Linked DNA regions of Homo sapiens: region 2 is linked to region 1. Evidence: fine-mapped expression QTL. Tissue or cell type: whole blood. Region 1 holds a variant in brackets; the other region holds the start of a gene. All regions are shown on one strand. Distances are from middle to middle.

Region 1 (7,602 bases):
TAGCTGTTCTGCGCGTTGTCTTGTGGTGGTTTGTATGGATTAGGGTCCAGGCGAGGCCTGCGTACTGTTTGGGGTCCTGTCTCTTTATTTATCTTCTTTCTGAACATCCTTCCTTATTTATTTTTAAGTCTGTTATTGGTCTGACAGAGACAGGGCGTTTTTTTTTTTTTTTTTTTTTTTGGAAACAGAGTCTTGCTCTGTCACCCAGGCTGGAGTGCAGTGGCACAATCTCGGCTCACTGTAACCTCCGCCTCCCAGGTTCAAGCAATTCTCCTGCCTCAGCCTCCTGAGTAGCTGGGGTTACAGGCATCCGCCACCACATCCAGCTAGTTTTTTGTATTTTTAGTACAGACGGGGTTTAACCATGTTGGCCAGGCTGGTCTCAAACTCCTGACCTCAGGTGATCCACCTGCCTCGGCCTCCCAAAGTGCTGGGATTACAGGCGCGAGCCACCGCGCTCGGCTGAGACAGGGCATTTGTCCAGCACAGCATCTGCGTCTGTCTCCCTGTGCTGTTATCAACCTGTCCTGTGCTGTCATCAGGCTGTCCCAGGCTGAGTAGTGCTGGATCCTTCAAGGGGCTGTTTGGGGTTTTGGAGAGAGCCCCTCACGGGAGGGGCTGGCCGCTTCCTGCTCAGCCCCACGCGATGCTGTAGGTCCCAACCTTAGATCTCTTTATGGAGCGAGTGAGGGATGTGTGTGGAGGGGTGCGCGTGCCTGTGTGCACGTGTGTCCGTGTATGCATTTATGCATGAGTACGTGTTCATGCATGTATGTCAGTCGATACTGTCCTGTTAACACATGGAGAAAACCAGGCCTAGACACTACGTCTCTGGCCTGTGGCAGCCAAATTAGAGCTGGCCAGTCCAGGTTTGAGCCCAGTTGCCTGCTGGTGAGAAGCTCAAAATCATGGGGCACGATCGGTGAAGCAGGCTTTGAATTCAGCAAATAAAGCGTTTGTGTTGGTTTTGCTTCATGTGCTTTTTTGCATTAGTTTTCAGTTCTCAGGTTTGTACCTGTAGAAGGGGAAGAGGCCTAACTTCTTAGAGGCCTGGGGCCCTCGGCCTCCTGCTCACCCCTTGCTTCAGGCCACACAGGATCTCATTCTGGTATTTGTCCAGCAGATGTTGCTGAGCCCTGGCTGGACGCTGACTCACCAGGGTCTCCCAGCCTGGCAGGTAGAAGGGCCTGCCTGGTGCTGCCCTGTAGGTGCTGTGAGGGCCCAGAGCTATCAGCCCCTGGTAGGGGGAGACGGGGGCGGGGGCCCACTGGGGCCTCTGTTATGGAGAACCATCCTGGCCTGAGGGGTGCCAGGTAGATGGGGTGGGGTGACTCTTGTGGCCGTGTCCTCTCTGGTGTGTGGCTTCAGGCAGGCACTGGTCGACCACTACAGCAAGCTCTCTGCAGAGGCAGCTCGTCGGGAGCAGAAGGCACTGTGGAGAATCCAGAGGCACCGACTGGAGAGTGCACGGCTTCGTTTTCTCTTAGAAGATGAGAAACACATTCAGGTATGTCTGCGGCTTCAGATGGCAGCTCTTCCCCTGGGCTTTGGGGGTCTGGAAACCCCCTGAGACTGCACACAAACCTACATGCTCTTCTAGGAGAGGGCTGGTGGCTTTCGCGTTTGCGGCAGAGCACTCTCTCTCCCCGTGTGCCACCAAATTGCACAGATACAGGTGGTGAGGAGCTCGTGGTTTTGGAGTACTTTTTGCAGGCCCAGCGTCCCACTGGAGCCCAGCACAAGCCTTGTCTGGTTCAGTGCACATGGCTGCCATGGGCGGTAGGGGCTGTGGCTTTGTGTGGGGTAGGGCTGTGCTTGACTCCGGCTTGGCCAGTCACCCCTCTGGCTTGAATTTCAGGAGATGCTGAAAGCAGTGTCTGAGGCTCACCAGCCCCAGGAGCCGCCAGACGTCCTCTTGAGCGTGCACCCCCAGGTAAGCGGCAGAGTGGAACCCAGGGTGCCCTATGGTTTTCCCATAGCCCTCGGCACCTGGTGTTGGTCATGGCTGCAGAGCTGAACTTGGGGGACAGTTCGAGGGCTGGGGGGTCCTGAGACCAGACTGGGTCTGATGTCACCTGTGTTTCAGGTCACGTCTCCGGGCCCTGAGCACCCAGAGGGAGGCCAAGGCTGTGATTCTGGGTCTGCAGAGCAACACTCGCCTGCCTGGGATGGCTGGAACAGGCCAGGCCTGCTGACCCCACAGCCCCTTAAGCCTCTAGCAGTGGGGGCTGGTGGCAGGGGGCTGCAGCAGGCGGAGGGGGCCAGACCCTTCTCTGACAGCCTCAGCATTGGAGACTTCCTACCTGTGGGCCCAGGGGCTGAGCCGTCCGTGCAGACTGGCATGGTCCCTCTCCTGGAGGTGGCGCTGCAGACCATTAACTTGGACCTGCCCCCCTCAGCTCCTGGGGAGGCACCCGCAGCAGCCAGCACTCAGCCCTCCAGGCCACAGGAGTACGACTTTAGTACTGTCCTGAGGCCAGCTGTGGCCACCTCACCTGCACCAGGGCCCCTGCAGGCTGCAGAGTGCAGCTTGGGCAGCTCAGGGCTACAGCTGTGGGAGGACAGTTGTGGGAAGATGGATGCCTGTGGCTCCGCCTCGCGGGAGACTCTGCTCCCCTCACACCCACCCAGGCGTGCTGCTCTGGAGGAGGGGAGCAGCCAGCCCACAGAGCGGCTCTTTGGGCAGGTGTCAGGGGGTGGTCTTCCCACAGGGGACTACGCTTCTGAAATAGCTCCCACCCGGCCACGGTGGAACACCCACGGGCACGTGTCTGACGCCAGCATCAGGGTCGGGGAGAATGTGTCAGATGTGGCTCCCACCCAGCCACGGTGGAACACCCACGGACACGTATCCAATGCCAGCATCAGCTTAGGGGAGTCTGTGTCAGATGTGGCTCCCACTCGGCCACGGTGGAACATCCATGGACATGTGTCCAACGCCAGCATCAGGGTCGGGGAGAATGTGTCAGATGTGGCTCCCACCAGGCCACGGTGGAATACCCACGGGCACGTGTCCAACGCCAGCATCAGGGTTGGGGAGAACGTGTCGGACGTGGCTCCCACCCGGCCACGGTGGAACACCCATGGACACGTGTCCGATGCCAGCATCAGCTTGGGGGAGTCTGTGTCAGACATGGCTCCCGCCCGGCCACGGTGGAACACCCATGGACACGTGTCTGATGCCAGCATCAGCTTGGGGGAGTCTGTGTCAGACATGGCTCCCACCCGGCCACGGTGGAACACCCACGGACATGTGTCTGACACCAGCATCAGGGTTGGGGAGAACGTATCGGACGTGGCTCCCATCCGGTCACGGTGCAACACCCATGGACACGTGTCCGACGCCAGCATCAGCTTGGGGGAGCCTGTGTCGGATGTGGTTTCCACCCGGCCACGGTGGAACACCCATGTACCCATCCCTCCGCCCCACATGGTGCTGGGGGCTCTCTCACCAGAAGCTGAGCCCAACACACCCAGGCCCCAACAGAGCCCCCCTGGCCACACGTCCCAGTCAGCGCTCAGCCTGGGAGCACAGAGCACTGTGCTGGACTGTGGGCCACGGCTGCCTGTAGAAGTGGGGCCATCTCTGTCCTCCCCCAGCTCGGGCTGCGGGGAGGGGAGCATCAGCGTGGGGGAGAACGTGTCAGACGTGGCTCCCACCCAACCATGGTGGCCCAACACCCCGGGAGACAGTGTCTCTGAAGAACTAGGTCAGAGTAGGGTGGCTGGTGGTCAGGAGTGGGACTGTGGGACGCACAGAGCCTGGGAGGTAGGCGGGCAGTGGGGTTGGTGGCATGTGAAGTTCCCCTCAGGCCTCCTTGTCAGCCAGGACCTGGGCTGCTGTGGGGGACATGGGAGGGGCTGCTTGAGCCAGGGCCGGCTCGGCTC[T/C]GTACCCGCCACAGGCACTCGGCCCTGATGCCCTCGTGTCCACTTGTGTCCACACAGGCCCTGGGAGGAGCGGGGACACTGAGGACCTCTCTCCAAATTGGCCTCTCAACTCACAGGTTAGGTGGATGCAGCCTGGGGGTCCCACAGCAGGCAGGGAGGGCTCTGTCCCTCTAGGTTGTCACGCGGGTGGGTCCCACATGCGATTTTCCTTTTTTTGGCACAAGCTGGTTGTGGGGACAGCGTGCAGTGGGGAGGTGGTTCTGAGGCTGGTGTTTTGTTAGGAAGACACAGCTGCCCAGAGCAGCCCAGGCCGTGGTGAGGAGGCGGAGGCATCGGCGGCGGAGGCTCAGGGTGGGGAGCAGGCCTACCTGGCAGGCCTGGCAGGGCAGTACCACTTGGAGCGGTACCCGGACAGTTACGAGTCCATGTGTGAGTGCAGCAGTTGCTGTTGGCAGGGAGCCCTGGGCTGGCTGGTTCCCAGCACGTGCTCCACCTCCTGTGGGTTGGGGCGGAGCCCTGGGCTAGCCAGTTCCCAGCACGTGCTCCATCTCCTGTGGATGGGGGCGGAGCCCTGGGCTGGCCGGTTCCCAGCACGTGCGTGCTCCATCTCCCGCAGCCGAGCCGCCCATTGCTCATCTTTTGCGCCCCGTGCTTCCCCGGGCCTTCGCCTTCCCCGTGGACCCCCAGGTCCAGTCTGCCGCTGATGAGACTGCTGTGCAGCTGAGCGAGTTGCTGACGCTGCCCGTGCTCATGAAGCGCTCCATCACGGCACCGCTGGCCGCCCAGTGAGTGCCCCTGCCCCTGCGCCAGTCTGCCCACCCAGCCCGTCCTGGCCCGCCCTGACTCCAGCTCCCTCCTGCCAGCATCTCCTTGGTGAACAAGGCCGCTGTCGACTACTTCTTCGTGGAGCTGCACCTGGAGGCGCACTATGAGGCACTGCGGCACTTCCTGCTGATGGAGGACGGCGAGTTCGCCCAGTCCCTCAGCGACCTGCTCTTTGAGAAGGTGGCCTCCGGACACGGGGTGGGGCCAGTGGTAGAGGGGAGGCCGTGGGAAAAGAGAGACTGGCTGCACGCCCACAGCCCCCTGCTGCTCTGGCACAGCCCCATGGGGTGCCGGCGAGTGCCAGGCATGTGCTTGGGACTCCTGGGGACGGTGGTCCCTTTTCTGCCTAGCTTGGAGCTGGGCAAACGCCCGGAGAGCTGCTCAACCCGCTGGTGCTGAACTCTGTGCTGAGCAAGGCCCTGCAGTGCAGCCTGCATGGGGACACCCCGCACGCCTCCAACCTCTCCCTCGCTCTCAAGTACCTGCCCGAGGTGTTTGCCCCCAACGCCCCGGATGTGCTGAGCTGCCTGGAGCTCAGGTACAAGGTCAGCAGCAGCCCTGGCCGCGGGGGATGGGACAGGGGCCTGCCTGCCTGTGGGATGCCTGCTGAGCCACGCCTCCTGGCAGGTGGACTGGCCTCTCAACATTGTCATCACCGAGGGCTGCGTGAGCAAGTACAGCGGCGTCTTCTCCTTCCTGCTGCAGCTGAAGCTCATGATGTGGGCGCTCAAGGACGTCTGCTTCCACCTCAAGCGCACAGGTGAGGCCCCGCTGGAGCCCGGCGCCCCGCACCCCTGGCTGGAGGCTGCGCTCACCTCTGCCCTCTGCCTTCTGCCCTCCGCCAGCCCTGCTGAGCCACATGGCCGGCTCTGTGCAGTTCCGTCAGCTGCAGCTGTTCAAGCACGAGATGCAGCATTTCGTGAAGGTCATCCAGGGCTACATCGCCAACCAGATCCTGCACGTCACCTGGTGCGAGTTCAGGGCCAGGTTGGCCACCGTGGGCGACCTGGAGGAGATCCAGCGTGCGCACGCAGAGTACCTGCACAAGGCCGTCTTCAGGTGAGGCCTGGGCAGCGGCTGCGTCCCTGTGGTCACGGCTCAGCCCACCCAGCAGCACTGCTTCCCCCCAGGGGCCTGCTCACGGAGAAGGCGGCGCCCGTCATGAACGTCATCCACAGCATCTTCAGCCTCGTGCTCAAGTTCCGCAGCCAGCTCATCTCCCAGGCCTGGGGGCCCCCTGGGGGCCCGCGGGGTGCAGAGCACCCCAACTTTGCACTCATGCAGCAGTCCTACAACACCTTCAAGTACTACTCCCACTTTCTCTTCAAAGGTGAGGCCCACCCTGGCTGGGAGGGCTGCGGGGGGGCCAGGGCGGGGCTCACACTGTGGGCAAAAGCCTGAGCTGCTCGCTGGTCCCCAGTGGTGACCAAGCTGGTGAACCGCGGCTACCAGCCCCACCTGGAGGACTTTCTGCTGCGCATCAACTTCAACAACTACTACCAGGACGCCTGAGGCTGCTCTGCGGGGGACGTGCACAATAAAGGTGTTCTCGGACCCTGTCTGCAGCTCTCTCTCCTGGGTGGGGGCTGAGGACAGGGCAGGGTGGGGGAACAATGACCACAGAGACAGACTCGAGGGAGTTGCTGGTTTATTTAGGAGCCTGGGTCCAGCCCCCAGGGACCAGGCTGCACTGCTGAGCCGGCCTCAGACAGAGACGGGTCAGGTCCTGACTGGATGTCTCTGCCATCATGGAAAGACGGGTGTGCATGGGCCAGGGCAGAATCCCCCAGTGTATAGGGCAGCCTGGCATCATCTTGGCCACTCAGCAGCACATGGGGGCCTCGGGAGACTCCAGGGGTGTGGAGCGTGCCGAGGCCGTTACGAAGATCATGTCACGCACAGTTCTGCTGCCCAGAGCGGGGGCTTACTGCTGTAGGAGCGCTGCCTGCCGTCCGCCCCGTCGGCTTCCGTGGCCTCGGCGTCTGTGGCGGCCCCCGCCTCGCAGTGGTAAGGGGTCTCCAGTAGTTTCAGCACCCGCCGCACCTGGAGGATCAGGAGGGTGAGAGGGGTCTGGGGCCGACCCCCCTCCCAGGGACCACAGGGACAGGCGTGTGCTTGCCTCTGAGAAGTCCCCGCGCTCGGCAGCCTCGATGGCATTCTGCGCGATGTAGTTCCTCAGCACGTACTTCGGGTTGTTGGCGTGCATCACGCGCACGTGCTCAGCCTGCCAGGCGGCAGCGTCCCCAGCGCCTTCCAGGTCCTTGTCCAGCCGGGCTCTGGAATGACATCCGGGCTCTGGAGTCACAGCCGGGCTGGACTTTTTCCAGCACGCGACCCGCCGTCCCCCGGTGACCATGGACGCAGGGCTCACCTGTACGCCTGTAGCCAGTCAGCCCAGTGGCCCTGGTTCCTGCTCTGCAGCTCTGCCGCACTCAGCTGCTCCAGCCGAGACTGCTGCTCCACACGCTCCAGCTCCCTGGCGATGCCTGCCCGGGTGCCCATAAGCGCGAACAGCTGCGGGTTTGACTGCGCCAGCATCAGCATCATGGATAGCTGCCTGTGGAGAGGCCAGGGTGTCTGGGAGGTAGCCCCTGACCGTGTCCCTGCCCTGCAGGCAGCTGCTCCGCCTGCCCCAGCCCGCTCTCACGGCTCACCTAGAGTCCAAGGGCCCAAGCAGCCCGGTCCCCGAGGTCCCTGGAACCCCACTGGCAGGGATGGACCCCAGTGGGCACACACCAGGCATGCCCATGCTCGGCCAAGGCCCTTTGTGGGCCGAGGGGCAGGACCACTCTGCTGCCCAGCTTTCTGCTGGAGAGTCTCCACCTCCCGAGTTTAATGCTTGTGGGATGGGCACTGCTGTTAGCACTTCCCTCATTTCCAGAAGGGTCC
Region 2 (6,623 bases), 24 kb before region 1:
ACCACATGGATGTGAACATTGCCTTGTGCCAGGAACTGTTCCCAGAACAGCCCCAGGGGTGGGGATCACTAGTGTGTCTGACCTCTGACCTCAGCTTCTTCAGTTAAATGCTCTTTGGCAGAGAGGTGAAGGGGGTGATTTAAAGTATACATTTAGGCAGGGTGCAGTGGCTCATGCCTGTAATAACGGCAGTTTGGGGGGCCAAGGTGGGAGAAACGCTTGAGCCCAGGAGTTCAAGACCAGCCTAGAGAACATATGGAGACCCTGTCTTCACAAAAAATAAAAAAGTCAGCCAAGCGTGGTGGTGTGTGCCTGTAGTTACTTAGGAGGCTGAGGCAGGACGATCGCTTAAGCCCAGGAGTTTGAGGCTGTGGTGAGCTACAATTGCGCCACTGCACGCCAGCCTGGCTACAGAACGAGACCCTGCCTCTCTAAAAAAAAAAAAAAAAATTATAGACGTAAGCATCTTATTTACAGAAATGGAGTGATTGACCTTAGTGTAAGAAGATGTGTGGCTGACAGTAGCCGCAGAGACACACCGAATGAAGGGAACTGTGGATCTGTTTACCTGGCTTGGGAGTTGGTTGGTGCCTCATTCTCCACTGTTTATTCATCCCACAGGTGAACAGTGGTATAGCAGCCACTCCAGCCTCTGCTGCAGCAGCCACCCTGGATGTGGCTGTTCGGAGAGGCCTGTCCCACGGAGCCCAGAGGTAAGCCTCACTTGGCCATCCTGAGCCTCTGACGGCAGGACCTGTGGGCACCCCTATCCTGGCTGGCCAAGCACAGAGAGTTCTGGGAATGGACTCTGGACAACATGAACACCTGTCCTGAGGCCAGCTCTTCTTCCAGGCTGCTGTGCGTGGCCCTGGGACAGCTGGACCGGCCTCCAGACCTCGCCCATGACGGGTAGGACTCTCAGGTCTTGCATATGTCCAGCCATGCATGTGGACGGGCATGTGATGGACGTGTGCCTGGGCCCCAGGGTGACGGGTGGGTGGGGCACTGTGTGGTACTGAATGGAGCCTTCCTCAGCTGGGGTGTGGGAGAAGGGCTGCTGGAGGCAATGCCAGGTGGGTCTCCAGCACAGAGGCTCAGCAGTCACAGCACCCCTGCCCATGGCCCCGTGAATGCTCTTCCACCTCTGCCTCTGCGGTTTGGGCTCAGGAGGGTGAGCAGGGCCTTACACTTATGCACCTGTGTCCTGGAAGGAGGAGTCTGTGGCTGAACATCAGGGGCAAGGAGGCGGCTGCCCTATCCATGTTCCATGTCTCCACGCCACTGCCAGTGGTGAGTGACCATGCCACGCGGCAAGGCAGGTGCTGGGGAGCCCATGGATGTGTACAGCTGCTGTTTGCTGGCATTGTCATGATAGCAGGCCTCTGGTCCTTCCTGTCTCCCTGCTCCTACTCCAGGGGCCCTGAGATTGGGAGGTTGGGAGGCCAGAGCCAGCAGGTGTCCGTAGATGAGGAGCTGGGCTCTGCTGTCCCCACAGATGACCGGTGGTTTCCTGAGCTGCATCTTGGGCTTGGTGCTGCCCCTGGCCTATGGCTTCCAGCCTGACCTGGTGCTGGTGGCGCTGGGGCCTGGCCATGGCCTGCAGGGCCCCCACGCTGCACTCCTGGCTGCAATGCTTCGGGGGCTGGCAGGGGGCCGAGTCCTGGCCCTCCTGGAGGAGGTAAGCTGGGCAGGGTGGAGGTGCTGCGGGGTGGGACGAGGGAAAGGACCAGTGACTGCTTCCGTCTTCGCCCCTGGTCCAGAACTCCACACCCCAGCTAGCAGGGATCCTGGCCCGGGTGCTGAATGGAGAGGCACCTCCTAGCCTAGGCCCTTCCTCTGTGGCCTCCCCAGAGGACGTCCAGGCCCTGATGTACCTGAGAGGGCAGCTGGAGCCTCAGTGGAAGATGTTGCAGGTGAGGCTGACTGCGGAGGCATGGCCCTGCCCTGGGGCCTGGCTCTGCCGCACAGATCGGTGGGGAGGGCAGGGCAGGGGAGTGCCCTGAACCAGCTCCAGCGCCGGAGGCCAACTGCGCGCCTCTTCTCGGCTCCTCCTGTAGTGCCATCCTCACCTGGTGGCTTGAAATCGGCCAAGGTGGGAGCATTTACACCGCAGAAATGACACCGCACGCCAGCGCCCCGCGGCCGCGATCCGGACCCCAAGCCCACGGCTCCCTCGACTCTGGGGCACGGAACCCCGCCCACTCCCAATCCCCGCGCCCCGCCCTCTCCCACCCGTGCTTCCCCCGCTCCACCCCTCACCTCACCTCGCCCCCGCCCCACCCATCGCGCCCCGGCCCGTCCCATCGAGGCCCATGCAACCCACGCTCGGTCCCGTTCCGGCCCCTGCGCCCCGCTGCGCTTCGCTCCCCGCCCTTGCGCCGTTAGTAAACATCGCTCAAACGAAACGCTGGCTCTGCCTCCTTTACTGAGCACGCTCGGCCTCGGTCTCTCACCCGCGGTGCCGGACTCAGGCCGGAAGTATGCCGCGGCCCAGGCCTCACCAACTTCACGCGCTGCCGGCGTTCCCGTGACGTATTTCCGGCGCGCCCGCCCTAGTGCTCTTCACACTGGCGCGGCTGTGACGCGACGGAGGCGGCGAGAGCGGCAGCCGTGGGCACTTTCCACGGGTGAGGCCTGGAGAACGGGTGGACGTGCAGGCCAGAACCCGGGACCCACCCGGCTGAGCCCCCAGACTCTCCGCTGCCCACGACCCTCGGAGTGGCACCCTCTCCTGGCCGTCTCCTCTCGTGGGTCCCGAAGAACGGGTGCAAAGCCGAGTTCGTCCGCTGTACTGCGCGGGCGCGCGTTTCGTTCTTCGGTTTTGCCACGGTTCTGTGACTCCCTAAAGGTTGAGGGCTACTGAATTAGAAGAAACGCCGAGCTGGCTTCTGGTGGGCTGCCGGGCGCCGGGCAGCGTGCTTGGACTGGGGAGGGCAGGGCGTGTTTACTCTGAGTAGAGCAACCGCAAGACCTCCTTTAAAAAATACCAGTTCTGAGCTTCGGCATTGGAGAGGCCGCCTGTCATTCAGCCTCTTCGGACCCTCTCTCACTCCCTGTCTTCCGGAGCGTGAGTGAAGCCCGGGTGAGGTGTTTTCCCACACGCCGGGGGCCCGGAGCTGAGAAGGGGCATGGCCAGCATCACGCAGCTGTTCGACGACCTGTGTGAGGCCCTCCTGCCGGCTGCCAAGACTCACCTGGGCCAGCGCAGTGTGAACCGGAAGAGGGCAAAGCGGAGCCTCAAGAAGGTGGCCTACAATGCTCTTTTCACAAATCTTTTTCAAGATGAGACTCAACAGCTGCAGCCTGACATGTCAAAACTACCAGCGAGAAACAAGATCCTCATGTTGTCCTTTGACTTGAGAGTGGGTGGCCTGGGCCCCAAGGCCGACCGTTTGGAGGAGCTTGTGGAGGAGCTGGAAGCAGCCCCTTGCTGTCCGCTTTTGGAGGTGGGGTCTGTTTTGGACCTCCTGGTTCAGCTGGCAGGGAGTGGTCCCCCTCAAGTTCTGCCGAGAAAACGAGACTACTTCCTTAACAACAAGCATGTGGGGAGAAACGTTCCGTACAGCGGCTATGATTGCGACGACCTGAGTGTGTTTGAGATGGACGTTCAGTCTCTGATCTCCAGAGAAGAGTGTTTGTGTCACAGCATGATCCAGGAAACACTTCAGGTTATGGAGGCTGCTCCAGGCACTGGCCTGCCCACCGTCGGGCTCTTCTCATTTGGTGACCCTTGTGGTGACAGGTTCGAGAGAGACACCCGGGTCTCGCTCTTCGGGGCCCTTGTGCACAGCCGCACTTATGACATGGACGTCCGACTGGGCCTGCCCCCCGTGCCAGACAATGCGGACCTCTCTGGGCTGGCTATTAAGGTAGAATGTTTAGTTTTTCCTCTTTCATCTCTCTCGGGGTTTGGAAAATGCTTCCTGTGACCTTTCTTCTTCTTCTTCTTCTTCTTTTTTTTTTTTTTTTTGAGACAGTGTCTCACTCTGTCACCCAGGCTGGAGTGCAGTGGCGCGATCTTGGCTCACCTTAACCTCCACTTTCTGGGCTCAAGCAATTCTCGTACCTCAGCCTCCCGAGTAGCTGAAATTACAGGCACCTGCCACCACGCCCGGCTTAATTTTTTTTTTTTTTTGAGATGGAGTCTTGCTCTGTTGCCCAGGCTGGAGTGCCGTGGCGCGATCTCGGCTCACTGTAACCGCCGCCTCCCGGGGTCAAGTGATTCTCCTACCTCAGCCTCCCGAGTAGCTGTAGCTGGGATTTAGGTGCATGCCACCACGCCCAGCTAAGTTTTGTATTTTTAGTAGAGATGGGGTTTCACCATGCTGGCTAGGCTGGTCTTGAACTCCTGACCTCTTGATCCGCCTGCCTCGGCCTCCCAAAGTGCTGGGATTACAGGCGTGAGCCACCATGCCCAACTAATTTTTGTATTTTTAGTAGAGGCGGGGTTTCACCATGTTGGCCAGGCTGGTCTCCAACTCCTGACCTCAAATGATCCACCCGTCTCGGCCTCCCAAAGTGCTGGGATTACAGGCATGAGCCACTGTGCCCGGCCCGGTGACCTTCCTTTTATCATGGTAAAAGGGGGGATAGTCTGGTGGCTGCATTGTCCTGAGGTGGGGCTGCTGGAGTGGGCTTACTGGCGGCCACCCTCCTCTGCAGCGACAGTGCTGCCCACCTGCCGGCCAAAGCAACATGCTGCTTTTCATCTTTACCTAATGGGGTATATCGTTAAGCCACCTCTGCCTTCTAGAGCTGCCGTTTAAATTGAAGTTAATTAAAACAAAATAAAATACTCAGTTCCTCAGCCCCACAAGCCACATTTCAAGTGCTCAGTAGCCACGTGTGGCAAAAGTGTTCATGTTCTGTAATTCGTGCAATTGGATATGTTTTTGCTGTCTGTCGCCTGAGGCTTTACCATGGTACGCTGTAGCTCCTCATTTGAGTTTTGTATTTTATTGCTTTATCAGTGTTGCCAAAAGGATACATTGTTACTAGTCGTTCTATTCTTATGCGATAGCTAGATGATTTAGAAACATACATAATGCTACAGCAAATGTCTTGGTGTACAGCAGTTTTGTTTTTTGTTTTTGAGACAAGTCTTGCTCTGTCGCCCAGGCTGGAGTGCAGTGGTGTGGTCTCGGCTCACTGCAACCTCCATCTCCTGGGTTCAAGCGATTCTCCTGCCTCAGCCTCCTAAGTATCTGGGACTACAGGTGTGCGTCACCACACACAGCTAATTTTTGTATTTTATATGTTTGTATTTTTATTTTTTTATTTTATTTGATTTTTTTTTTTGACACAGTCTCGCTCTGTCGCCCAGGCTCGAGTGCGGTGGCACAATCTTGGCTCACTGCAAGCTCTGCCTCCCAGGTTCACGCCATTCTCCCGCCTCAGCCTCCTGAGTAGCTGGGACTACAGGTGCCTGCCACCACGCCCTGCGAATTTTTTGTATATTTAGTAGAGACGGGGTTTCACCGTGTTAGCCAGGATGGTCTCTATCTCCTCACCTCGTGATCTGCCCGCCTCGGCCTCCCAAAGTGCTGGGATTACAGGCGTGAGCCCGGCCTGATTGTTCTTTTTTTTTTTTTTTTTTTTTTTTTTGAGATGGAGTCTTGTGTAGGGACCAGCCCTACAGGGTCTGTGGGTTTTTCTCTCCATATGCGGAGACCAGAGATGGTAGAAATAAAGACACAAGACAGAGATAGAAGAAAAAACAGCTGGGCCCGGGGGATCACTACCACCAACACGTGGAGACCAGTAGTGGCCCCAAATGCCAGGCTGCGCTGTTATTTATTGGATACAAGGCAAAAGGGGCAGGGTAAGGAGTGTGAGTCATCTCCAATGATAGGTAAGGTCACGTGGGTCACGTGTCAACTGGACAGGGGGCCCTTCCCTGTTTGGCAGCCGAAGCAGAGAGAGAGGAGACAGCTTACACCATTATTTCTGCATTTCAGAGACTTTTAGTACTTTCACTAATTTGCTACTGCTATCTAGAAGGCAGAGCCAGGTGTACAGGATGGAACATGAAAGTGGACTAGGAGTGTGACTGCTGAAGCACAGCATCACAGGGAGACGTTTAGGCCTCTGGATAACTGCGGGTGGGCCTGAGTCATGTCAGGCCCTCCACAAGAGGTGGTGGAGCAGAGTCTTCTCTAACTCCCCCAGGGAAAGGGAGACTCCCTTTCCTGGTCTGCTAAGTAGTGGGTGCTTTTCCTAGGCACTGACGCTACCGCTAGACCAAGGTCCGCTAGGTAATGGGCGTCTTCCCAGGTGCTGCCATTACCACTAGACTAAGGAGCCCTCTAGTGGCCCTGTCTGGGCATGACAGAAGGCTCACACTCTTGTCTTCTGGTCACTTCTCACCTTGCCCCTTCAGCTCCTGTCTCTGTATGGCCTGGTTTCTCGTAAGTTACAATTGTAGAGCGAAGATTATTATAATCTTGGAATAAAGAGCAATTGCTACAAACTAATGATTAATAACGTTCATATATAATCATATTTATGATCTATAGTGTAACTATTCTTGTTCTATATATTTTATTGTACTAGAACAGCTCGTGCCCTCGGTCTCTTGCCTCGGCACCTGGGTGGCTTGCTGCCCACAGTCTTGCTCTGTCGCC

What was found. PIP is the estimated chance that this variant, and not a neighbour inherited with it, causes the effect.
Region 2: it holds the start of TUBGCP6, and the variant in region 1 is fine-mapped to the expression of TUBGCP6 in whole blood (TOPMed, PIP above 0.99). The same link has a PIP of 0.9 or more in spinal cord, testis and thyroid.

What each region holds. Positions count from the first base shown.
Region 1 is chr22:50,216,359-50,223,960 of GRCh38, reverse strand. SELENOO (selenoprotein O) reads right to left here. Exons shown (of 9, transcript NM_031454.2): 7 at 7,085-7,270; 8 at 6,833-6,989; 9 at 6,345-6,756. The coding sequence ends at 6,592. It overlaps TUBGCP6 (tubulin gamma complex component 6), which reads left to right. Exons shown (of 25, transcript NM_020461.4): 14 at 1,369-1,507; 15 at 1,859-1,933; 16 at 2,087-3,710; 17 at 3,946-4,004; 18 at 4,170-4,317; 19 at 4,505-4,673; 20 at 4,752-4,893; 21 at 5,064-5,258; 22 at 5,341-5,473; 23 at 5,559-5,772; 24 at 5,844-6,043; 25 at 6,134-6,267. The coding sequence ends at 6,225. Among named protein-coding and RNA genes, the nearest start is that of SELENOO-AS1, 10 kb to the right of the region's middle. RefSeq lists an enhancer at 3,724-4,366. The variant T/C (reference allele first, on the strand shown) is at 3,889.
Region 2 is chr22:50,240,965-50,247,587 of GRCh38, reverse strand. It overlaps TUBGCP6 (tubulin gamma complex component 6), which reads left to right and starts at 2,565. Exons shown (of 25, transcript NM_020461.4): 1 at 2,565-3,869. The coding sequence starts at 3,129. HDAC10 (histone deacetylase 10) reads left to right here. Exons shown (of 20, transcript NM_032019.6): 15 at 622-713; 16 at 853-909; 17 at 1,212-1,290; 18 at 1,496-1,678; 19 at 1,761-1,913; 20 at 2,058-2,405. The coding sequence ends at 2,081. RefSeq lists enhancers at 1-58, 2,733-2,782, 3,193-3,472, 3,046-3,976, 5,884-6,183 and a silencer at 2,193-2,262.